7 linked regions of the Homo sapiens genome follow. The protein of the gene in region 6 purifies or fractionates together with the protein of the main gene of each other region. This does not show direct contact. Each region holds a gene or a part of one and is shown on either strand. Other genes may lie near its edges. The genes, in order: LRP4, TRIM11, MYBL2, PLIN3, MRPS27, ZSCAN26 and TDG.

The links.
Region 1: the proteins of ZSCAN26 (region 6) and LRP4 purify together in Homo sapiens (affinity purification with mass spectrometry; 3 studies listed by BioGRID and IntAct, with this or other methods). This does not show direct contact.
Region 2: the proteins of ZSCAN26 (region 6) and TRIM11 purify together in Homo sapiens (affinity purification with mass spectrometry; 3 studies listed by BioGRID and IntAct, with this or other methods). This does not show direct contact.
Region 3: the proteins of ZSCAN26 (region 6) and MYBL2 purify together in Homo sapiens (affinity purification with mass spectrometry; one large-scale study listed by BioGRID and IntAct). This does not show direct contact.
Region 4: the proteins of ZSCAN26 (region 6) and PLIN3 purify together in Homo sapiens (affinity purification with mass spectrometry; one large-scale study listed by BioGRID and IntAct). This does not show direct contact.
Region 5: the proteins of ZSCAN26 (region 6) and MRPS27 purify together in Homo sapiens (affinity purification with mass spectrometry; one large-scale study listed by BioGRID and IntAct). This does not show direct contact.
Region 7: the proteins of ZSCAN26 (region 6) and TDG purify together in Homo sapiens (affinity purification with mass spectrometry, with the first as the bait; one large-scale study listed by BioGRID). This does not show direct contact.

What each region holds. Positions count from the first base shown.
Region 1 is NC_000011.10:46,873,551-46,877,050, forward strand, and holds part of LRP4 (low-density lipoprotein receptor-related protein 4 precursor), read right to left. Parts: intron 3,281-3,500; coding exon 3,194-3,280; intron 3,088-3,193; coding exon 2,916-3,087; intron 2,417-2,915; coding exon 2,254-2,416; intron 2,132-2,253; coding exon 1,906-2,131; intron 1,554-1,905; coding exon 1,250-1,553; intron 867-1,249; exon of another isoform or gene 44-866; coding exon 1-43. UniProt on the Homo sapiens protein: Mediates SOST-dependent inhibition of bone formation. Functions as a specific facilitator of SOST-mediated inhibition of Wnt signaling.
Region 2 is NC_000001.11:228,400,336-228,403,835, reverse strand, and holds part of TRIM11 (E3 ubiquitin-protein ligase TRIM11), read left to right. Parts: intron 1-1,674; coding exon 1,675-1,770; intron 1,771-2,641; coding exon 2,642-2,872; intron 2,873-3,500.
Region 3 is NC_000020.11:43,714,548-43,716,982, reverse strand, and holds the end of MYBL2 (myb-related protein B), read right to left. Parts: intron 1,850-2,435; coding exon 1,700-1,849; intron 1,025-1,699; coding exon 896-1,024; 3' UTR 501-895; downstream 1-500. UniProt on the Homo sapiens protein: Transcription factor involved in the regulation of cell survival, proliferation, and differentiation. Transactivates the expression of the CLU gene.
Region 4 is NC_000019.10:4,857,668-4,861,167, forward strand, and holds part of PLIN3 (perilipin-3), read right to left. Parts: intron 2,358-3,500; coding exon 2,159-2,357; intron 2,006-2,158; coding exon 1,923-2,005; intron 1-1,922. UniProt on the Homo sapiens protein: Structural component of lipid droplets, which is required for the formation and maintenance of lipid storage droplets. Required for the transport of mannose 6-phosphate receptors (MPR) from endosomes to the trans-Golgi network.
Region 5 is NC_000005.10:72,310,241-72,313,740, reverse strand, and holds part of MRPS27 (small ribosomal subunit protein mS27), read left to right. Parts: intron 1-3,500. UniProt on the Homo sapiens protein: RNA-binding component of the mitochondrial small ribosomal subunit (mt-SSU) that plays a role in mitochondrial protein synthesis. Stimulates mitochondrial mRNA translation of subunit components of the mitochondrial electron transport chain.
Region 6 is NC_000006.12:28,270,143-28,273,642, reverse strand, and holds part of ZSCAN26 (zinc finger and SCAN domain-containing protein 26), read right to left. Parts: intron 1,790-3,500; 5' UTR 1,724-1,789; coding exon 1,304-1,723; exon of another isoform or gene 974-1,303; coding exon 856-973; intron 1-855. UniProt on the Homo sapiens protein: May be involved in transcriptional regulation.
Region 7 is NC_000012.12:103,982,872-103,986,122, reverse strand, and holds part of TDG (G/T mismatch-specific thymine DNA glycosylase), read right to left. Parts: coding exon 3,189-3,251; intron 2,988-3,188; coding exon 2,905-2,987; intron 2,829-2,904; coding exon 2,734-2,828; intron 1,375-2,733; coding exon 1,203-1,374; intron 521-1,202; coding exon 395-520; intron 1-394. UniProt on the Homo sapiens protein: DNA glycosylase that plays a key role in active DNA demethylation: specifically recognizes and binds 5-formylcytosine (5fC) and 5-carboxylcytosine (5caC) in the context of CpG sites and mediates their excision through base-excision repair (BER) to install an unmethylated cytosine.

The sequences.
Region 1 (3,500 bases), on a different chromosome or scaffold from region 6:
CCCGATCACTGTCTCCATGTTGCTGCCGTTCAGGTCTGCTCGCCTTGGGGAGAGCCCAGTGTTGGATGAGCAACCAGACTGACCCAGAATAGAGTAGAACTTTAACCCATGTTCCCATAACTGGACCCCACTGAACTGTAAGCTCCACAGGGATAGAGACCAGGTATCTATGAGTACATTCCTCAGCACCCAGCATGATAGATGTTCAATAAAATAATTGCAGAATGAAGGAACCAGTTCTTAGGAGGACACAGTATTTCCTGCTAACTGGACATAGTGGCGGTTGCCAGGGGATGTCTTGCTAGAAGACAAGTTTATCATTCCCCACATACCTTTGGGAAGAGACAAGGATTGCTAGGTGGTGATGATAAGAAACGCAGATTTGTCAAAACCAACCTGTGCATTTTTTAAAAGTTAAAAACAATTTTAAATACAAGTAGATATGAGGTTTCATTATGTTGCCTAGGCTGGTCTTGAACTCCTGGGCTCAAGCAATCTTCCCGCCTTGGCCTCCCAAAGTGCTGGGATTATAGGCGCGAGCTACCACGCCAGACCCTAATTGTGCACTTTTGCAAAGGCCCTATGGGCAGGAGGGAACTCTACCTCAGAATGGGGAGCATGTCACTGTCACCTAGGGGACTTCCCTAAACTGTATATGCCTACCTGTCCCCAGTTTGAGATTCTAATACATCCCTTGGGGAGAGCAAAGGGGAATGTTCCCTGTTCCTCCATGTGAGAATATCTGCCATGGTAAACCACTCTTACTGGTGGCAGGACATCATATTCCTAAGCTGTGTTAGGGCCACAAATTTAAAGACTAAAAATAAAACAACGAAAAAATAAAAAACAACAGCTTTGTAAACCACCATAAGACTTGGCATTTGATTGGGGCTCCTTTACTGCAATACAGATACTGGTTATATGGCCTACTCATCAGTAAGTCCTAGGGGATTCTTGGAGCTCCCTCAGGGCACAATGGTAGATGTGAAAGTCTCCAGGTCCCCTGACTTTACCTGTTTTTTTTGTTGTTGTTGTTTGTTTTACATACTAGGCTTCCATATAATCTCTAAACAAATGAAAGTTTGAAACTCTGCTGTAAGTGACAACACTACAAAGTGAACAAGTCAGGATTAAAACTCACTATCCAAAGTGCCAAATCACTCATCCATTTAGTGGTCAGAACACAACCTCACCCATGGGCGACCAGAAGCAAATCTGTGTCTTCTGGAGGTTTCAGTGTTGCTCATACCTGATAACATCCAGGAACACATCTGTGTAATAGACCTTTCCATCCACGCTGTCATAGTCCAGGGAGATGACATTGTTGAGCTCAGGAACAGGGACATGCACATCGGTGTGGTCACTGGTGTCCAGTGAGATACGCCGGATGGAGCCACGGCTGGAGAAGAGCAGGTAGGTCTCAGGAGAGGGATCACAGGTCTTCCCATCTCCCTTCAGCTGGATGCCAGTGGGGCAGGCACAGGAGAAGCCAGAAGGCCGAGGCAAGCAGAGGTGGGAGCAGCCGCCATTTCTCGAGCCGCACTTGTTAAAACCTGGTGATGAGAAGCACAAGTATTCACACCTAGCCTGGAACATCATCTGAATCTTACAAAGGTCCCAGTTGTTTGTGGCTGGCTCTTTGCTGTTCTAAGTGACAGGATTCAGTGCCTGGCAGGGTGAGGTAGAAGGAGGGTCTGCAGGAGGATCTCCAGGAGTCCTTTGAAGGTGACAGCTGTAGTACCAGCCATACCCAGAGAGAACACAGCCCAATCTGGAAGGGAGCTTAAACAGGTCACCGTCTTTCTGGCTGTAAAGGAGCTCTGTGCTCTGGATATATCTCTGATGTTGAGATGGCCCCAGAAAGCCAGAGGCTCTGACTCACAGCCCCAGCCCTCTGACTCTCACCTAGTGGCTGTGCCCGGTCCACAGCCTGCATGTCCATGAGGCCTGGCAGGTTGGACCTCACGAGGATGACATTGCTGCCAGTACCCTTGTCAGCACGGTGGATGCTCCGAGTCTGCCAGTCAGTCCAGTAGATATAGGAGTCGAGCAGGGTGAGGCCATATGGGTGCTGCACCGGTGACACCAATGTATGCCGATTGGCACCATTCAGGTCAGCAGCCTCAATTCGCTGCAGAGGAAGGAGAGGGTGGGGGGTGGTGATCAGCAGATTGGGAACTCTCCATGGAGATCCTAGGCAGGCCTTTCCCATCTTCCCAGGCTCCTGGGAAGCAGCAGGGACACGGCTCTCACCTCGGTGTGGGCATCGGCCCATAGCAGTTGGGAGCTGGCCTTGTCCACAGTCAGTCCATTGGGCCATCCTAGGTTGTTGTTGATGAGCACCGCGCGGTCTGAGCCATCCATTCCGGACCGCTCTAACTTGGCATTCTCCCCCCAGTCTGTCCAGTACATAAACCTGAGTGAGGAAGAATATTAGCTATATTAGCTAGTTATTCCAGCAGCTACCACATACCATGAATACTTAACAGTATGTCAGATACACTTGAGTACTTACAGTATGTCAGGCAAAATTTTTGCTTGACAAAGTACTTTGCAAAATACTTCATGTGCATTATCTCAACCTTCATAAGGGCCACAAGGTATGTATTTTCACTACCACCTCCATTTAATAGGTAAGGAAGCTGAGAATTAGAGAGGTTAAATACCGGACCCAAGTGATATAGCTAATACATGATGAAAACATTTCAATCCTGGTATTCTGATTCAAGGCTCATGCTTTTAACTTCTACACTGTACTGTCACCCTGCGAGAAGTCACAAGAGAGTGGAAGAGCCCCAGGGAGGTCACCTTGTTTCTGTGATGCAAGCTTCCTCTCCACTACCCACCTTTACCCCGTCATAACCCCAGCTGAGCTGGCCCCCCACACTACCCAGTGCGATACAGCCAGCTCTCACCCCATCTCATGGTACAGTACGATGGCCCGGGGACTGTCAAGGTTCTGCCACACCAACACTTTCCGCATGGACCCGTCCAGGTTGCCCACTTCAATCCGGTTTGTTCCCGTGTCTGTCCAGTATACTTTCCGGCCAATGGCATCAACCGCGAGCCCATCTGTGGTCTGTAGCCCTGTGGGAAGTCAAAAGAGCACACTGGCTCCTATTTTAAAACAGATGGGCTATTTCCCCAGCCCTGTTGCCAGACAGGTGGTCCCTGGGCTAGGAGGAAGGCCCACCTGTGGTGATGATGTCCTCATGCTGTGAGCCATCCAGATTGGCACGACTGATCCTGTGCAGTGTGCTGTCAGACCAGTACACCTTTCCTGGAGAGGGAAAGCTTGGCTCAACCTAGACCCTCACCGCCTACAATGGGACACACACAGCTGATTCATGTCTTGAAACACCAGAGCATGTCAGAGAGCTCTGGAGCCTCTAGCAGAGGAAATCAAGGAAAACGCAGAAATATCATAGCAGGATAGCTCTTGGCAGAGACGGAGAGAAGAGGGCCCCAAACCATGCTCTCACAACCAAAGAGAGAGTGCT
Region 2 (3,500 bases), on a different chromosome or scaffold from region 6:
AAAAAATACAAAAATTAGCTGGGTGTGGTGATGGGCACCTGTAATCCCAGCTACTCAGGGGGCTGAGGCAGAAGAATCACTTGAACACAGGAGGCAGAGGTTGCAGTGAGCCGAGATCGTGCCACTGCACTCCAGCTTGGGGGACAAAGCGAGACTCCGTCTCAAAAAAAGAAAACTGAAAATGTCCCGTAGGGACTGAGGCATTGAGGGAGAAGTGAGAGGCACTGGGCCAAGTGTTTGAGGTGGGGTTGGGGTCACAGGGGCCAGGCCTGAGTTTTCTGGAACAGGTCGGCAGCAGTGAGGAGAGAGGCCTGGGGACAGGGACCGCCATTTGGGGTTCTTGTAGCTCACGTGAGAGCTGAGCCTAGGCAGAGACAGTAAAGCAGTTGGACATGTCCTTGGTGCTCCAGCGGTCTTCCCGAATCGTGAGGCCAAGTGGTGAACTAAAGTGAGCACCTGGAGCCAGGCAGCTGGGCTGAAGTCCTGGCTCTGCTACCGGGGCAGACTTCTGGACCCTCCCAGCACCTCCATCCTTCCAGAGCGTGGATAGCGAGAGATGAGAGCCAAGACTTGGGGTGGCTGAGAAGCAAAGAGGTGTGGCCAGCACAGGGCCCGTTGCTGATAAGGGTGTCAGATGGGGTGGAAGTGAGCAGACCCTTCGAGAAGTGGGTTCAGGGCACCCCAAGCACACACAGTACAGTGAGCTTGTGTACAGGATTTTCACTGCTTCCTGGTATGCACAGCATGAGGAACCGTGGGAATGAGAATTAAGGACCAAGAAAGCAGAATGGAGGTGTACCCATCCTGGAGCTTATTACAGTGATAGCTGATGAAGCTGAAAATGCACAAGGTCCCGAGTGGCTTGGAGAAAAGATAGGGTGGGTAGCCAGGCATGTCTGTCCGTGCTGACTGTCCTACCAAAACACCATGGTTTGCACATGGCAGATGTATACAAGCTGGAGACTCACAGCTCTGGAGGCTGGAAGTCTAAGATCAAGCCCTGGCAGGTTTGGTGTCTGGTGAGGGTGCTTCCTGGTTCACAGACAACACCCTCTCACTGTGTTGTCATATGGTGAAAGGGGCGAGGGTTCCTTTATAACACTAATCCCATTGTGGCGGCACTGCCCTCCTGACCTAGTCACCTCCCAAAGCCCCCGCCTCCTAACATCATCACACTGGGTGTTGGGATTTCAACCTATGAATTTGTGGGGGCATAGGGCAGAATTTTTGGACCCCAGCATAGGCTTGGTCCAAGGCCCTTATGTGAGCCAGCAGGTGAGAAGGAAGAGGAGGAGGAGTAGACACTGGCTTGGGAACAGGAGAGCTCAGCACCTTCAGAGCCAGCTTGGGGACAGATGGGGTGGGCAGCCAGAACCCTTGAGGTAGCTTTGCAAAGGGGGGTGAGGCCTGGGCTAGGGTAGCAAGGTCGAGGACTAGAAATGCCCCATATGAGAAAAAGGAAAGAATGTGGCTGGGGCTGTCAGCCTCTGGCAAGAGGCTGCCCACCTACCATGAGGGCTCACGCTTATTGGAGGGCATTGAGTTCCCTGATTCACCAGGCAGATTTCAGTTTGTCCCCATTGTCTTTGAGGAGGGGACAGGGTGTCAGGTGCAAAAGGGCAGGCTTCTGTGACAGGACTCATGTCTCATGGTCCTGCCTGGCCTCTCCCGCAGGCGAAGCTGGAGAAGTCACTGGAGCATCTCCGGAAGCAGATGCAGGATGCGTTGCTGTTCCAAGCCCAGGCGGATGAGACCTGCGTCTTGTGGCAGGCAGGTGCTGGGGCTCCCAGGGTCCTGGGTGGCAGGGTAGGGGGTGAAGGTCCTGTATAGGAGACCCCAGGGGGCGATGCTGGCCAGGCACACTTGCCCTTGGCGCCCCAGGACCAGTCACTGCTTCAGCCTGGCCCCACCGAGCCCACTGAAGGGCTGGTCCTTTCCCACGTGCACCTGTCCTGCCAGGTCGTGGGCGTGGGCTCCCATACTGCAAGGGCCCCATCCTGGGGTCCCAGCATGCTTGGGTGGCAACTCTCAGGTGTATTTAGGGTCTGGGCCCTGGAGGTAAATTTGGAGGTTTTGAGGGACTAGGTCATAGATGTGGGATTCAGCCATCCTGAGGAGTAGATTTGGGATCTGTCCAGTTCTGGGGTAGATTTGGGGTCTGGGAGGCTCTGGGTGGTGGATTTGGGATCTGGGAAGCCCCAGGGGAGAATTTGGAGGTCAGGAGGGACCCTGGGTGGTAGATTTGTAGTCCAGCTGGCCCCAGGTGGTAGATGCAGGGTTCTACCAAGCCAATGGGTGGATTTGGAAGTTGGGGAGGGACTAGATAGTGGATTTGGGATCTAGTCGGCCCTGGGTTTAGATTTGGGGTCTAGCCAGTCCTGTGTGGTAGAATGGGATTTGGCTCTCCCTGAGTGGTGGATTTGGGGTTTGGGAGGTGCCACAGGTGGGTTTGGGGTCTGGCCAGCACCAGGTGGTGGGTTTGGGGTCCTGCCACACCTGGTGCTGTGCTTTGGCTTTAGCAGGCCCCGGGGGTGGGGTTGGGTGCAGCCAGGCCTCTGGGTGGGCTTGGGGTCTGACCAAACTTGGGGTCTGGCTGGGCCTGGGGTCTGGCCTCAGCTGTCCTTCTCCCTGGGCTCCACAGAAGATGGTGGAGAGCCAGCGGCAGAACGTGCTGGGTGAGTTCGAGCGTCTTCGCCGTTTGCTGGCAGAGGAGGAGCAGCAGCTGCTGCAGAGGCTGGAGGAGGAGGAGCTGGAGGTGCTGCCCCGGCTGCGGGAGGGCGCAGCCCACCTAGGCCAGCAGAGCGCCCACCTAGCTGAGCTCATCGCCGAGCTCGAGGGCCGCTGCCAGCTGCCTGCTCTGGGGCTGCTGCAGGTGAGCTGGGCGGGGAGCAGCCATGGTGGCCACACGGGCATGGCCTGGCCACACTGGGGGAGGGAGAACCAGAAAGTGCAAGAAGCAGGGGCAGAGAGGTTGTCTGGGCTGAGAGGTGAATGGCATGGCTGGATGTGCCTGGCTGTTGCCTGTGAAATGCTGAGTCAGCAGCAGGACAGATGTCCCACCCCCAAAACCCACGTGCCGAGAAAGGGAAAATCAATTTTCCTCTGTAGATGTAAACAGTTGATGTTTCTTAAGTGATTACATAAGGTCACTCCATCTCGTCCTGACTGACACTGCTGCTCCCTGTGGGCACAGCAGAGTGGGCATGTGCTCGCTGGGACCACCTTGGGCCTCCCATAGGATTCCTGCCATGGTGTCCCCAGCAGGAAGTCCTCGCCCTTCACTCTGTCTTCACCCCGCTGGCACACCCCATGCATCTCCATTATGGGGGGCAGTCTCCTCCTCCTCTGCTTCCAGGAGAGTCTTTTCCCATGTGTGGGCTCCACTCCCTGAGCCGGCCCCCTGGGCCTGGGCTTTCCTTGGTGCACCCCCAAACCAGAACCAGTGGACGCCCTGGCCTGTGGCCTGGCGGCAGGTCAGGGGGCCTGGAGTCAGCTCTCTC
Region 3 (2,435 bases), on a different chromosome or scaffold from region 6:
GGATTTAGGGCCACAAGGGCAGAGGCTCTGGCCCATCCTGGCCTCCTGCTCAGCCTTGGCCAATGGGGCTAGAGGGTTCTGCCCAGCTGCCTTCACCCCTCTTCCTTGCTTACTGGTCTGACCTGGGGGCCACGCTCAGCTTGAGGCAGGGGCTTGTTAATGGGCAGGTGAGCCACCCAAGGCAAGGGCCAGGCAAGGCCCTACTGCACCAACCCATCGTCCTCCTCCGCCCCCAGTCTCTGCCCACCCCCGCCCAACCCCATGGCTATTAATACTCAGAGCTTTGCAGAGATGCCCACTGGGTGCAGAGACGAGAGAAATTGCTCTCATCTCATTGTGCCCCTCTGTGGAAACAGGGTCAAGGGCTCAGGCCTGGGCTGTGCCGATAAGGCTGGCCTCTGAGGATGAGCATTCAGGTCCCTATATCCCAGAAGAGGCCCCTAGGTCACCAGGGAACCATGAGCAGGGCCCAGTAGAGAGGCAGAGTCCAGACCAGCACAAAGAGAGAGGCAATTTTATTCTTCCAAAAAAATGCACCAAGAGAGGGTGAGCACAGGAGCACCCCTGGCCACATCCCCCATCCTAAGCAGGGTCTGAGATGAGGCCAGGCCTGACGTGGGCTTGGGAGAAGCTGACGGAGCTCCCTGTGGCCTTGGGGAGGGAACCAGGCAGACCTGGAAGTGGAACTTTGTTGTTAGCACCAGGAGCCGCCCACAGCTGGGCTCGGCAACAGGGCAGCACATGGCCCTGTTGCCTCCACCTGAGAGTCTGGGGAGGGGCTGGTGGCAGAAGGCTCCCTGCAGGAGGTCACCTGAATGACTCTCAGATTCACAGACCCCCTCTGCCCCCACAACCCCTGTAAACATGAGAATGGGCTCGTGACACCCTCAACACCTCAGGACAAGATGAGGGTCCGAGATGTGTGGCTGGGCTTCAGGCGGCCCAGGAGCTGCCGGGCTTTCTCCTGCATGAAAAGCTGGTCCCTGGTCCCCCCGCAGGCCACCGTCTTCCAGGCACTGGACATCTGGGAGGAGGCAAGAGGGTTACCATCCAGGCAGGGACTATGTGTTCCCAACAGACCCTGGTGATCCTGGCCAGGGAAGGGTAGAGTTATAAGCCTCCCTCCCCTAGAAGCCAGAGCCTTCTTATTCTCTCTCCACATTCCCTGTGACCCTGGACAAGTCACTTCCTGGCTGTGGGCTTCCTCAACTGTAAGTAGGACGCTGGACAAGGAGACATGGCCATGCACTGCCCGCCCCGTGCAGCACCAGCCTCGAGGAGAAGCCACAGCCAGGAGGCGGGTGAGAAGGAGCAGTGAGACGGGTCAGCAGCCTGAAGCCAGCCCCTGCTTGAGGACAGACATGTACTAAGCAAACCAAATACAGGGATAATGACTTAGTTACAAGTGAAACCCAGGCCACAAAAGAGAGAATGGCAGAATGGGGGTATCTCTACAGAATGTAGGGTCAGAGAAGGCTTACCCCTAAGGAAGCAGCATTGAGACTGAAATCAGAAGAGTAAGTTAAGCAAATGCAGCCACGGGAAGTAGCAGGAAAAGCACCCAGGCAGAGGAACAGCCTATGCAAAGGCCCTGAGCTAAGAAGGCGGGCACTGCAGGACCCCCAGGGATGGCCAGCACTCAGCCCTGAGCTAAGAAGGCGGGCACTGCAGGACCCCCAGAGATGGCCACAGCACTCACAGGGGCAGGTGTCGTGAAGTGGCTTCGGGGCTTCTGGGCCACTGCTGCCTTCTCGGGCTTGGCCTGCAAGAAGCCCTGGTTGAGCAAGCTGTTGTCTTCTTTGATACCTGACAGGGTGAGGCTGGAAGAGTTTGAAGGGGCAGTTGTCGGCTGAAACCAAAACCAAGTCAAGGAGTCACCATTTTGCGAGAAGCTGTGAGAGGGAAGAAAAAAACCCGCAATCCCACCCCAGCACCACCACCTGGCTGCTGAGACCTGAAAGAGGATACACACTTTTCCAAGCCTCAGTTTCTGCTTTCAGATAGGGAGTTTACATGAGCTTAAGCTTACTTTATACTTAAAAGATTAAGCAAAGGGCCAGGAGCGGTGGCTCACGCCTGTAATCCCAGCACTTTGGGAGGCCGAGGCAGGCGGATCACGAGGTCAAGAGATCGAGACCATCCTGGTCAACAGGGTGAAACCCCGTCTCTACTAAAAACACAAAAATTAGCTGGGTGTGGTGGTGGGCGCCTGTTGTCCCAGCTACTTGGGAGGCTGAGGCAGAAGAATGGTGCGAACCTGGGAGGAGGTGGAGCTTGCAGTGAGCCGAGATTGCACCACTGCATTCCAGCCTGGGAGACAGAGCCAGACTCCGTCTCAAAAAAAAATTAAGCAAAGAACTTAATCTTGTTCTAAAGAACTTTCTTACTTAAAAAAAAAAAATCAAGTAATCAAGTAAAGAAACGTGTGTGCGTTT
Region 4 (3,500 bases), on a different chromosome or scaffold from region 6:
TTCTGTAGAAAAGAAAGTGGGACCCAGGCTGGGCCTGGTGGCTCATGTCTGTAATCCCAACACTTTGGGAGGCCAAGGCAGGTGGATCACCTGAGGTCGGGAGCTCGAGACCAGCCTGACCAACATGGTAAAACCCCATCTCTACTAAAAATACAAAAATTGGCCAGGTGTGGTGGCACATGTCTGTAATCCCAGCCACTCGGGAGGCTGAGGCGGGAGAATCGCTTGAACCTGGGAGGTGGAGGTTGCAGTGAGCTGAAACTGCACCAGTGCACTCCAGCCTGGGCAACAAGAGCGAAACTCCATCTTAAAAAAAAAAAGAGGGGGCCGGGCACAGTGGCTCATGCCTGTAATCCCAGCACTTTGGGAGGCCGAGGCGGGAGGATCACGAGGTCAAGAGATTGAGACCATCCTGGCCAACTTGGTGAAACCCCGTCTCTACTAAAAATACAAAAATTAGCTAGGCGTGGTGGCAGACGTCTGCAACCCCAGCTACTCAGCAGCCTGAGGCAGGAGAATCGCTGGAACCCGGAGGTGGAGGTTGCAGTGAGCCGAGATTGCACCACTGCACACCAGCCTGGCAACAGAGCAAGACCCCGTCTCAAAAAAAAAAAAAAAAAAAAAAAAGTGAGGCCCACAGAGGCAAAGTAACTTGTGTGAGGGCCACCCAGCTGCTGAGGGGCAGGACACAGTTTGGAACATGGTGTTTTTTTTGTTTTGTTGTTTTTGAGACAGAGTCTCGCTCTGTCGCCCAGGCTGGAGTGTAGTGGCGCGATCTCAGCTCACTGCAACCTCCGTCTCCTGGGTTCAAGTGATTCTCTTGCCTCAGCCTCCCGAGTAACTAGGACTACAGGCACACGCCACCACGCCAAGCTAATTTTTTTTTTTGTAGTTTTAGTAGAGATGGGGTTTCACTGTGTTTGCCAGGATGGTCTCGATCTCCTGACCTTGTGATCCGCCCACCTCAGCCTCCCAAAGTACTGGGATTACAGGCATGAGCCACCGCGCCTGGCCAGAATATGGTGTTTTTTTGGTTTTTTTTTTTTTTTTTGAGATGGAGTTTCACTCTTGCTGCCCAGGCTAGAGTGCAATGGCATGATCTCGGATCACTGCAACCTCCGCCTCCAGGGTTCAAGAAATTCTCCTGCCTCAGCCTCCCGAGTAGCTGGGATTACAGGCACCCGCTACCACACCCAGATAAATTTTGTATTTTTAGTAGAGACGGGGTTTCTCCATGTTGGTCAGGCTGGTCTCAAACTCCCAACCTCAGGTGATCCTCCCGCCTTGGCCTCCCAAAGTGCTGGGATTACAGGCATGAGCCACCGCGCCCGGCCAGGAACATGGTGTTTTGATGTTTTGACTTTCCTGCCGCCAACCTTTTCTGACTAATAAGTTATGGAGGTGGCAACATTCTGTGTAAAGGGCCACGTAACTAAGATTTTCAGTACTGTGGGTCACAGTCTCTGTCACAACTACTCAACCTTGCCATTGTAGGGTGAAAGCAGTCATAGACAATATGTAAATAAATGGGCATGGCTGTGTGCCAATAAAACTTTATTATAAAAACAAGTGGGCTGGGCACCGTGGCTCATTCCTATAATCCCAGCACTTTGAGAGGCTGAGGCAGCTGGATCACCTGAGGTCAGGAGTTCGAGACCAGCCCGGCCAACATGGTGAAACCCCATCTCTACTAAAAATACAAAAACTAGATGGGCATGGTTGCAGGCGCCTGTAATCTGGCTGGCTTTGCAATTATTCCTCCAGCTACCCTGTGGGGAGTGGATTCGGGGTGGGGATGGGAACCGACAGGAGAGGCAGCAGGGAGGATGCCATCAAGCTTGTCTAGTTAAGCTGGGACCAGCGCACTCCACACCCAGGTAGGTCCCTGTCTCGACAGAGCCCCTGAGGACGGACATCGTTACCTTCTCCGTGGGCTGCTGCAGGATGGGGAGGTTCTCCTCCAACTTGTCCAGCCCCCTGTGGGCGTATTCGCTGGCTGATGCAACTGCCAACAACAATTAAGACGCAAATGTGACTGCTGGAAGGTCACCTAGTAATGGTTCAGGGGGACAGGACCAAGAGCTGGGTAGACCCCCCTACTCCCCACCCAGGGAAATGACCAGGAGGGGAATTCAGTGCCCCCTGGGACTTCACCCACTCTGGGGCTCCAGCTTGGAGAGGATCGGCTGAGCCCCGCTGACAGCAGCCGCCGTGAGGGTCCTCACTCCCTTCTCTGCTGCGTCGCAGACAGTCTTGATGTGCGGGTAGCTCTCCTTGGTGGAGGCATAGGCTGCGGACACCATGTCGCAGGTGGAGCTGATCAGAGGCATGCTGGCCACACGGTCCACCACACTGGGCTACAGGAGAGAAGTGGCTCAGGCAAACTGGGTGGGGGAAGATGGGGAGCTCAGCCGGAAACTCAGGGTGCCCTGCAGTTTTGCTCTTACTCCTGGCCAGTGAAACGGCTCAGTTTACCCACACTTTGCATCCAGGCAGTTGCACAAGCCAGGAACCTTGGGGTTTCGCCACGTGCTTCCTTTATTTTTATTTTATTTTTGAAACGGAGTCTTGCACTGTTGCCCGGGCTGGAGTGCACTGATGCGATCTCAGCTCACTGCAACCTCCACCTCCCAGGTTCAAACGATTCTCCTGCCTCATCCTCCTGAGTAGCTGGGATTACGGGTGCCACCACGCCCAGCTAATTTTTTTGTATTTTTAGTAGAGATGGGGTTTCACCATGTTGGCCAGGCTGGTCTTGAACTCCTGACCTCGTGATTCGCCCACCTCAGCCTCCCAAAGTGCTGGGATTACAGGCGTGAGCCACCGCACTCAGCCCACGTGCTTCCTTGAACACAGGCTATTTACATGAGCCTGCACTTTATCCCAGCGATGTGCCAGGTGGTGATAAGGGACAACAGTTCCATTCTCATGGCAGTTAGGGTCTAAACCGGGGGCTGTAGACCACAGCCCATGGGTCACAGCCAGCGCACCACTTGATTTTTAAATTTTAATTATTTTTGGGGCCAGGAGCAGTGGCTCACGCCTGTAATCCGAGCACTTTGGGAGACCGAGGCGGGTGGGTCACTTTGGGTCAGGAGTTTGAGACTAGCCTGGCCAACATGGTGAAACTCCGTCTCTACTAAAAATACAAAAATTAGCCGGGCGTGGTGGCACATGCCTGTTACCCCAGCTACTTGGGAGGCTGAGGCAGGAGAATTGCTTGAACCCAGGAGGCAGAGGTTGCAGTGAGCCAAGATGTCACCACTGCACTCCAGGCTGGGCGACACAGCAAGGTTCCATCTCAAAAATATATACATAAAATAAAATCACCTGAGGATGAGAGATCTGGAATAGAAACTGGCCTCCTAGGACGTCCCTGAGAGAGCCTTCAGAGGTGAGGATGATTTGGCTCAGGGGTTGGGGAGGGCAGGTAGTTTCAGACAGAACCCTGCTCCCTCAGGCCCTCCAAGGGCCTTTGAGATTCCCCCCTCCCAACTGGG
Region 5 (3,500 bases), on a different chromosome or scaffold from region 6:
TATTTTCTTAACTCCTCTTGTGGTCTTCAGAGCCCTTTTTGACTCTTCTCTATTTCATTACCAGGTGACAGGTTTGAAGGCAATGTTACAATCTCATGTAAGCTGTTTAGAGAAATAGTTGGTTAACATCTTCCCAGGCTTTGGGCTTATAATTATACTTTCTTTTCTCCTGTTCCCTATGTCATATTACACAGACAACAGCCTTTCTTTTGTAAAATACCAAGCCCCAAAAGAAATCACTGACTCAATGAGCAGTTTTTAAAAATGTGCATACTTTAGACTTTTGGTACTGCCTGCCCTTTGGTATATATAACATCATCGGAACATTAATAAAATAAATAGATTGGTGATAGTTTTATGAGACTGATGTAATTTTTGGATCAATTCCTATGCTGATCTAATATATTCCCCCAGATTTCTTTAGCTGTGTTTTGGGCTTATGTCAGTTAAGAATAAAGTCCCCTGTGTTTATGGATTTTTCCCATAAGTGCAGGAGACATTGCTGTCTCTAATGGCTACCTTATTGGGATTTTCAAAGATCTCATCCTTTTCTTTACTGATGATGTGATTGCACAAGCAGAGTTGGCTGTGAGCTCTGAGATGGGTGTATGTGCACAGGCCAGCTGAAGCAGAGCTGTGGAAGATCTGAAGATAAGTAATCGCAGCTTCTCCATGAGAAACTTACAGTCTCATTCTGTCTATAAGAGGCCCAGGGTAGCCTTCTTATAACAAGTACTTTATCATACTCTTCTTTTGCCATCTTGAAACTAAATTCATAGTTAATATAATCTATCTATACTTACTGTTTTAAAAACCAGTATATGGCTGGGTGTGGTGGCTCACACCTGTAATCCCAGCACTTTGGGAGGCTGAGGCTGGTGGATCATGAGGTCAGGAGTTTGAGACCAACCTGGCCAAGATGATGAAACCCCGTCTGTTAAAAAATACAAAAATTAGCCGGGCGCAGTGGCAGGCATCTGTAATCCCAGCTACTCCGGAGGCTGAGGCAGGAGAATCGCTTGAACCCGGGAGGCAGAGGTTGCAGTGAGCCGAGATCTTGCCACTACACTCTAGCCTGGGCAACAGAGCAAGACTCCATCTCAAAAAAAAAAAAAAAAATCAGTATGATTCCTTCGCCACGATACAGAGGAGAAACAAAGGGGAAGTAACTTAAACAATATGTATTTCAATTTGTAAACAAATGTCCAGGCAAAACTACAGTAAGAAACAATGAAGCAGGTAAATATTGCATATAAATGTGGAATAATTATAGACATGGAAGAAGTGTAGATGGGTAGAGATGCGGTATACTGGCAAATTCAAATACCAGGAGTGGCGCTATCATAATGACATAATTTTATTTATAGAATGAACAACTCTTGGTAAAGTTCTGATTGATTCAAAGGTATGTCTTCCCTCAATATAGAGTTGCAAAATTCACCTTATTTTCCATTAAAAAAACTTTGCTTATATGAAAAATGGAGTTAGTTCCATTAATGATAAACAGGTTGTTTTTGATGGTATAATTATGTCACAAATGACATGGCAAATTTTTTTAATCTTTTAATTTGGAAATAATTTTGTTGTTGTTATTGTCATTGTTGTTGAGACAGAGTCTGTACTATCTATCGCCCAGGCTGGAATGCAGTGGCGTCATCTCGGCTCACTGCAACCTCCGCCTCCTGGGTTCAAGCGATTCTCCTGCCTCCACCTCCTGAGTAGCTGGGGTTACAGCCGCACGCCACCACGCCCAGCTAATGTTTGCATTTTTAATAGAGACAGGGTTTTGCCTATTGGCCAGGCTGGTCTTGAACTCCTGGTGTCAGGTGATCTGCCCACCTCAGCCTCCCAAAGTGCTGGGATTACAGGCTTGAGCCACCGCGCCCAGCGGGAAATAATTTTAAACTTATAAAAACTGCAAAGAACTCCTCTATATCTGTCTTAGTTTGTTTTCTGTTGTTTATAACAATACCTGAAACTGGATCATTTATCAAGAAAACGAATTTATTTCTTACAGTTAGAGAGTCTGAGAAGGCCAGCGTTGAGGGGTGGCATCTGGTGAGAGCCTTCCTGCTGGTGAGGACTATTCAGAGTCCTGAGGTGGCTCAGAGCATCACATGGCGAGGGGGCTGAGCATGCTAGCTCAGGTCTCTCTTCCTCTTATGAAGCCACCAGTCCCACTTCCGTGATAACCCATCAATCCATTAACCCATTAGTCCATGAATGGATTAATTCATTCATCAGAGGAGAGCCCTTATGATCCACTGGCCTCTCAAAACTGTTACACTGGGGATTAAATTTCAACATGAGTTTCAGAGGAGACAAATATTTAAACCACAGCGCTACTTTTACTCATGTTCACCTGTCGTTACCATTTTGATTCATTTGTTTTTGCTTTCTCTCTCCTCCTTCCCCCTGTATACACACTTTCTTTAATCATTTGGGAGTTTGTTTCATATATTATAGCTCTTTATCCTGAATACTTCAATGTACATTACCTGAGATAAGGACATTCTATTGTATAATCATAGCACAGTTACCAACTTCGGAAATTTTGACATTAATATAATACTTTACTATTCATATCCCAGTTTTGGGAATTGACCCAATAATAGGGTCTCTCATAGCATTTTTCCTCTTCCAGTACAGGATGCTGTCTAGAATCATAGTTCCTTATCCTTTCTTTGTTTCTTATGACATTGTCCTATATATTTTTAAAGAACCCAATCTCTTTTTTTAAATAGAATATTCCTCTTTCTTGGATTTTTCTGCTATTTTCTCATTGTTATGCTTCCCCAGCCAGAATACTCTCAGTGATGTTGTGCCCCTGCCAGGGTATCACATGTGGACATACCTGATATCATATGCCTTCACTGGTGATGTCAGTTTTGATCACCTAGTCAACTGTGTCTGATTTCTCCACTGCAGAGTTACTGTTTTTCTCCCTTCTGATTAATAGGCTATTCTCGGAGAGAGACTTTAATGTAATGCAAATATGTTGTTTATCAAAAGTTTGCTCTTAGATTTGGCATCCATTCATGGCTTTAGCCTGAATCAATCTTTACTATAATGGTTGCAAAGTAATGATTTTCCAACTCTGAAAATTTCTCCAGATTTACTAGCTAACACTCAGTATTCTACTATAAGCAAGAACTCTTCCTTTTCTCTCATTTCTTTCTCATTTATCTGTTTATTATCATGCATTATGTTTAAATCATCAATTTGTGAATTTTTTAAATGATTCATTACCCTTCTCAATTATTTTGGTGGTCTAAATATCCCAGACTTGGCTGATAGAAGCCCTTTCAAGCTGGCTTCCATTTTCCCCCACCCCCCTCTTTTTTGATAACTTACTTTCTCTCATATAACAAGGTGTTTCAGGCTCACTGTGTACCCTTCCTGGCCTAGCCCTGGAATCAACCATTTCTCCAAGGAGCTCTGGTTACTTTTGGTGAGGAATGGCATTAGAAACCAAGATCTAGGTGCTAGGTGTCCTTTTG
Region 6 (3,500 bases):
TTTGAAGGAAATGTTAAAAAATGAGTAATGAAGCATGTGGCTTTCTTTGCCTTGATTAAGAAACTAGCAGTACTTGTTTTTTTTTTTGTTTGTTTGTTTTTTGAGACAGAGTCTTGCTGTGTCGCCCAGGCTGAAGTGTAGTGGCGTGATCTCAGCTCACTGCAATCTCAGCCTCCTGGATTCAAGCAGTTCTCTGCCTCAGCCTCCCGAGTAGCTGGGATTACAGGCACCCGCCACCAAACCTGGCTAATTTTTGTATTTTTAGTAGAGACAGTGTTTCACCATCTTGGCCAGGCTGGTCTTGAACTCCTGACCTCGTATACCTACCCACCTTGGCCCCCCAAAGTGTTGGGTTTACAGGCATGAGCCACCATGCCTGGCCACTATTTGCTTTTTTAAGAGATGTTGCCCAGACTGAAGTGCAGTGCAACAATCATTGCTCACTGCAGCCTTGAACTGGGCTCAAGTGATCCTTCTCCCTTAGCTTCCCAAGTAGCTGGCCTGGCACTGCTTTTTTTATTCACCCCTACAGTAAGAGGAAGAAGAGCAAGGTGAAGGTCCAGGTTCCCTTTGTACCCTTTTCTTGCTATTTTGTTCAGCTAAAATATTTGGGGTGATAGATATCTCTTATCTCTTGATAGTGGTCCTGATTAGACCACAATTATTTCGCATTTGTGAAAACTCATTGACCTGTACATCTAAAAAGAGTGAATTTTACTACATATAAATTATGCTTCAGTAAACCTGACTCAAAACAAAAGCAAAAAACAAAATACAAGGGTGCTAAGCACAACCTCAGAGGGAAAGGCACAGTCCACCACGTCTCACACACAGAAGATGCAATCCAATTCTTACCCTTCTCTTTCTCAGGCTTTGTAACTTCACACTCATGCCGAACCTGCTGTTCCTGTACTCCTTTCAGAGGGGCCATCTCCTCCACAAGTATTTTTTGTTTCTTTGGCTGGTCTGGGTCCTAGGGACAATTAGGTATATGGAGGCATAATTAGATATATGTGGGTTTAGGAAACTGCTGTTCAGTAAAACACCTAGGTGTTAAAAAAGAGAAGAAAGAGAAACCCCAGAGGGGCAAAGAAAAGAAGATGGGGAATCTGGTGCACATTCAGTTTTCTCCAAGCAAGGGCCAGGTAAGGTTGAGGTAAGACCTAAGGAAATTAACAGCTAGACTGGAAAAAAACTGAATCAAAGCTTAGTAATTCTCCTTCCGCTGATGAGCCCATGTCCACCTGTCTGGCCAGAGATCTCAATTCCTGCATTCCTGAAAAAGAGCACATCTGACCCTTACCACCTGTTGTCCTGTTTCTCCAAGATCCAGCTGCAAATCCTCCAGAACAACAACCACGTCCTCCCTGCTCTCTGGGTGATGCTCCTGCACCCGGGCCTGGAGCTCCTTAGGCAGGATGATCAGAAACTGCTCCAGCACCAGCAGCTCCAGGATCTGCTCCTTGGTATGGGTCTCGGGCTGTAGCCACTGTTGACAGAGCTCCCGGAGCCGACTTAGTGCTTCTCGAGGTCCTGTGGTCTCTTCATAACGCAACTGCCTGAATTGTTTGCACAATGGCTCCTGTCCAAGGCCTTTACTGTTTCCTTGCAGCTTGAATCCCTGTTCCCAAGTAGAGTAGTGATCCTCCCTCACTACCCGAAGCCCCTCCTTCTTCAGATTCAGGGGAGCCAGGGAATGGGCACTCACCAATGCTGTTGCCATCCCCAGCTTCAGACTGTTCTCCTTGTTTTGGAGAACTTTCTTTGGACTGTATCTTCAGAGACACTCCTAAAATTATAGTAACAAGAGTGACAGAAACAGTAATAGTACTGCTAACAAGAACAGTAACATTTTCTTGGGTTTATACATTTCCTATTATCCATTTTTTCTCTCTAAAACAACCATTTCTAAACATACATACAGAAGGAAAAAACTATCTTACAGAATACCATCTAATGTAGAAGGAATAATAGATTTGAAAAATCACCATTTTGTAGCCCTCAAAATAACTGAGGCTAGGCACTGTGGCTTACACTTGTCATCTCAGCACTTTGGGAGGCTGAGGTGGGAAGACTGCTTAAGCCCAGGAGTTTGAGTCCAGCCTGGGCAACATAGTGACACCAGGCATGGTGGCACATGCCTGTAATCCAAGCTACTCGGGAGGCTGAGGAGGGAGAACTGCTTGAGCCCAGGAGTCTGAGTTCAGCCTGGGCAACCAGAGCAAGACCTATATCAAAAAAGGAAGAAAAGAGAGAAAAAGAATGAAAGAAAGAAAGAAAAAGAAAAGAAAAAAGACAAGTGAAAGACAAGGAAATAGAGAAAGTTTTTTCAGACAAAAAAGACACCATAAAGCTGTTGGATGTTCAGTGTAGTAGTTAGTTATGGCTGGGAAAACGTTATATGGAGCCGGAATCCTGGGAAACATCTACATGTAAGAAACAGAAGTGAGATGGAACTGGAAAGGTAGGAGGAGAAAAAAGACAATAGTATCCAGAAGGTCAAGGAGGTCTATTTCTGTAAATGTGGAATGGTGGAAAGACCCTGGGCCTTAGACAGGCCTGGGTTCCAATCCAGCCCTGTCACTTACATGTTGTGACCTGGGGCAAGTAACTTATCCTTTTGGACTTAGTTTACTCATTTGTAAAATGAAGATAATACCTAATTCACAGAAGTTTTGAGGTAAATGAGATAATTCTAAAGAACAGAAGGAATTCACTGATTTATAAGGGAAATGATATGAGCACAGTGTTCAAGAGTGTGAAATGCTATAAGATGGTGAATTAATCTAAGACCTGGCATAGACACTTGATTCAAAAACAAAGATGTCATTAGTGACCTCTGTGAAGGTAATTTTGGTAGTGAGAATAGCTAGCCTGCCATAGGAAATGAGAAAATGGAGAGTGAGCATAAATGACAAATTTCAAAAAAGTAATACATTGAATGGAACAAGAAAGATAGGGCAGAAACTAGAAAGGGCTAATGTAGAGTATAAGTATTTTTGTGACTTCAATTACTGTCCTTATGCTGATGATTTCCTTATTCTTCAGGTCAGATATCTCAAGTGTCAGACCTGAATTTCCTTCTGCCTATTTGGGACCAGGATACCCTACAGAAGCCTCTCAAATCCAACATGTCAAAAATGAACTCAGACAATTCCCTACCATCCTTTGGGGCAGGCCCTTGGTATGTGGGGATTTAGCATTCTTGATTTTGACTATGCTTGAGTATCCCTATAGATCAGTGAAACACCATCTGTCAGCTGCTGACACATGCCTTTGAATCAATGTGCATGCGGTAAGTGGGAGAACGGGAGAAGGCTCACTTAATCAGTGGCTTAGCCTCCAAACAGTTTGCTGTTATATATTCCTGAATGTGTATATAGTTAACATTTCCCAGCTGATAATTATTTTTCTTAGTCAAAATGAACTTAAACTTTAAAAAGCCAATTCCTAGTATTCTTAATATAAGTAAAAAAGTCCAAGAAAGTGATGATTATCAG
Region 7 (3,251 bases), on a different chromosome or scaffold from region 6:
GGTGAAACCCTGTCTCTATTAAAAATACAAAAAAAATTAGCCAGGCATCGTGGCGGATGCCTGTAGTCCCAGCTACTCGGGAGGCTGAGGCAGGAGAATGGTGTGAACCCAGGAGGGGGAGCTTGCAGTGAGCCAAGATCGAGCCACTGCACTCTAGCCTGGGTGACACAGCGAGAATCTGTCTCAAAAACAAACAAACAAAAAAGAAAATGTACTGTAAAAGTCTGTGTAATTCAACGTGAAATAACCATCAATTTTTCACTATTAGTCACTAAATAAAATTTCATATTATCATTCCCATTCTTCAATAATTTACTCTCCTTCTATTAAAATTTTCCCCCCAATCCTGACCAAACCGTCTTTGAAAGGAATACACATGTGGAGGGAACCATACTTAGCCCATTTGAAGAGAAGCCACAAGGTTCACTGCTGCATGGATTTTCTCCGTAAGCACCACCATATGCTGCCTCATAACCTGGATCATATTTTTCTTCCTTAACAGCCATCTTCTTTGCATCCTCTGTGAGGAAGGTAAAAAGGATTTAAATCTGATTTTGTACAACAATTTTAAAAGTAGCTTTATTCAGAAATCATGAACAATTCTTTTTCTTGAATATTCATATACACTGAGATACATCTCTATTAATCTTTTAAACTTATAGCATGTACTAAATAAACACATAAGAACTGTAAAAACCGCTTACATTCAACTTTACGTAGGGTACAATATTTCTTACATCCCTCTGCTCTGGCACTCTGCAGGTGAATTATCTGCAGAAGTGCCAGAGTAGAGGGAAGACCTTGGTAAAAGGAGATTTTAACAGTGACTAATATTCATTATCAGAGCACTCTGGCTGCGAATATAATTGTTTTCTTTTTTCCTGCTTTTAAATCCATAAGATACTTTCTGTAATGTGTGTGTGTGTGTGTGTGTGTGTGTGTGTGTGTGTGTGTGTATGTGTCTATATATAGACACACACATATGTATACGCACACAAGTGTATACACACATATATGTATATAGACATACATACTTATGTGTATATATGTATATATACACATGTATATATACACGTGTGCATATATGTGCACACATATGTATATGTGTATATGTATATATGTATATGTGTATATATATGTAAGTATATATGTGTATATATACACACACAAAATGAATAAAAGGAATGAGGACAGTAACATACCTTGGGCAAGCTGTAGGTCAAATGTATATTGCACCTCTTGAACGTCCATATTTCGTTCAATGCCTTTCAACTGATCTCTTAAGTCCTTCAGTTTTATGTAGTAATGAACTTTGTCTTGGGCTCGAGGAAACTGAGCACATCTTGCACTGGATGATGGCATAACATAGCAGAGCTAGAATCACAACATTTTATAATTTCAGAAATCTTATAATTCTATTGAATTCACTCATTGAGATTAGAATATTTGTCTTTATTTGGGTTAATAACTTGATACTTAACTACATATAAATATATGTAAAAATCAATAAAAGTAGTTGCTTTTAAGGTTGAATTTGTAATACTGACTTATTACCAAGTCAGGAAGTGAAAAATAATGAGCCTCCGCCTAATGAGCTGCCTCCTGGGTTCAAGCGATTCTTCTGCCTCAGCCTCCTACGTAGCTGGGATTACAGCGCATGCCACCATGCCTGGCTAATTTTTGTATTTTTTAGTGGAGATGGGGTTTCACCATGTTGGCCAGGCTGGTCTCGAACTCCTAACCTCAGGTGATCCGCCTGCCTCGGCCTCCCAAAGTGCTGGGATTATAGGCATGAGCCACCACGCCCGGCCTCCAAATGGCATGTAACAGAGAATGACACAGTACTCTACAGGAATTTCTCTACAATTCACTACAGGTAGTGAATTTGTACCATTTTAACCAAGCAGACAAAGGTGGGCCTTTATTTAAGCAAAAACCAATGCTATAATAAAACTCATCAATTGCATATTTATAAGAAATTATGAACAAAAACAATTTTAAAGGAGAAATTTAAATATATTTAGGTGGCAGAAACATTTTTAGGTTTCCACAAAAACCTGGCAGCAAATTAGCTTCTCCATCAGTTAAGATGTTGTATATACAACATGTAAATCTGTGCACTGTGTTGTTCTTTAAAAGTTGTAAATAAAACCTAAAACTAAGAAGCAAAATTGGAACCAAATGCCTGCAGAAGCTCTGTAGAGAGGACAATTTGAAAAACACTGTTATTTCATGATGACTTTGTGTATAAGACAACAGTATTGAATGCCAGTTAGGTTGGCTGGAGGCTTGTCTGGGTTGTATTATTTATATGGCTCTAAAATGAAGTTGAGCTAAGATATATAAATGGGGCAACTGGTTTTCCTAATCAGGATCATGTCTGTGTTTCCATGTTTGTTTCACAACAGTACGAGGGCTAAACCATTTGAATTTGACAACTACATGCCATTAAATGTATTCTGAATGTAGTATATGAGCCAGTTCCTCTCAATATTTTCACTGAATAACAACATCAAGACATTTAGCTGACAAATGTTTTTCTTTCTAATAAACCCTAATAGTATTTGAATTAATTTACAACTATTAGTTAAAGCTGATGTATAGGTATTATTCAACAAAATACAGTGTAATTGTTTTGCATGGTATAAATCACAATGGATAGGACAAATAAGGAAATTATCTAGAAAAAAATTCACATTTAGCTGATTTACAAATTCAATTTTAGGGACTTACAGTTTCTGTGTCTGGAATCTTATGGGGCTGAAGCCCAAATTCCAAGTTCTTAACCTTTACTCCAAAAACTTCTTTACTAAAAATTTCATAAATACCTAAAATGAAATACAAACATATTTACATTGCCCATAATGTTAGCAAAGAAAAAAAAAATTTAAAAGTAAATCTTACATTTTCCATTAAACACTGCTATTCGTGGCTGATATTTCTGTAATTTCTGTACTAGAATACGTCCTCCTTCACGAAATTCTTTACTAAAATTGAATTAAAAAGTAGTCAAAAATATAAATATGACAATATTTATAATATGCTAAATTCAGACAGCTTTCAATGAAAGAGCATATTGTACATTTGTTGAGCTCAGCTTGAACTAGATACATATGATGTTCCTAGAATATTTGGGGCACCAGCATACTCAAGGTTCCAACCCATAAAAGCAAATGCTGTGTACTTACCTGGAGAGATCTTTGCTGCCGGGCGTGGTCCTTTCCACCATGTTGGTAAATCCAATACCATAC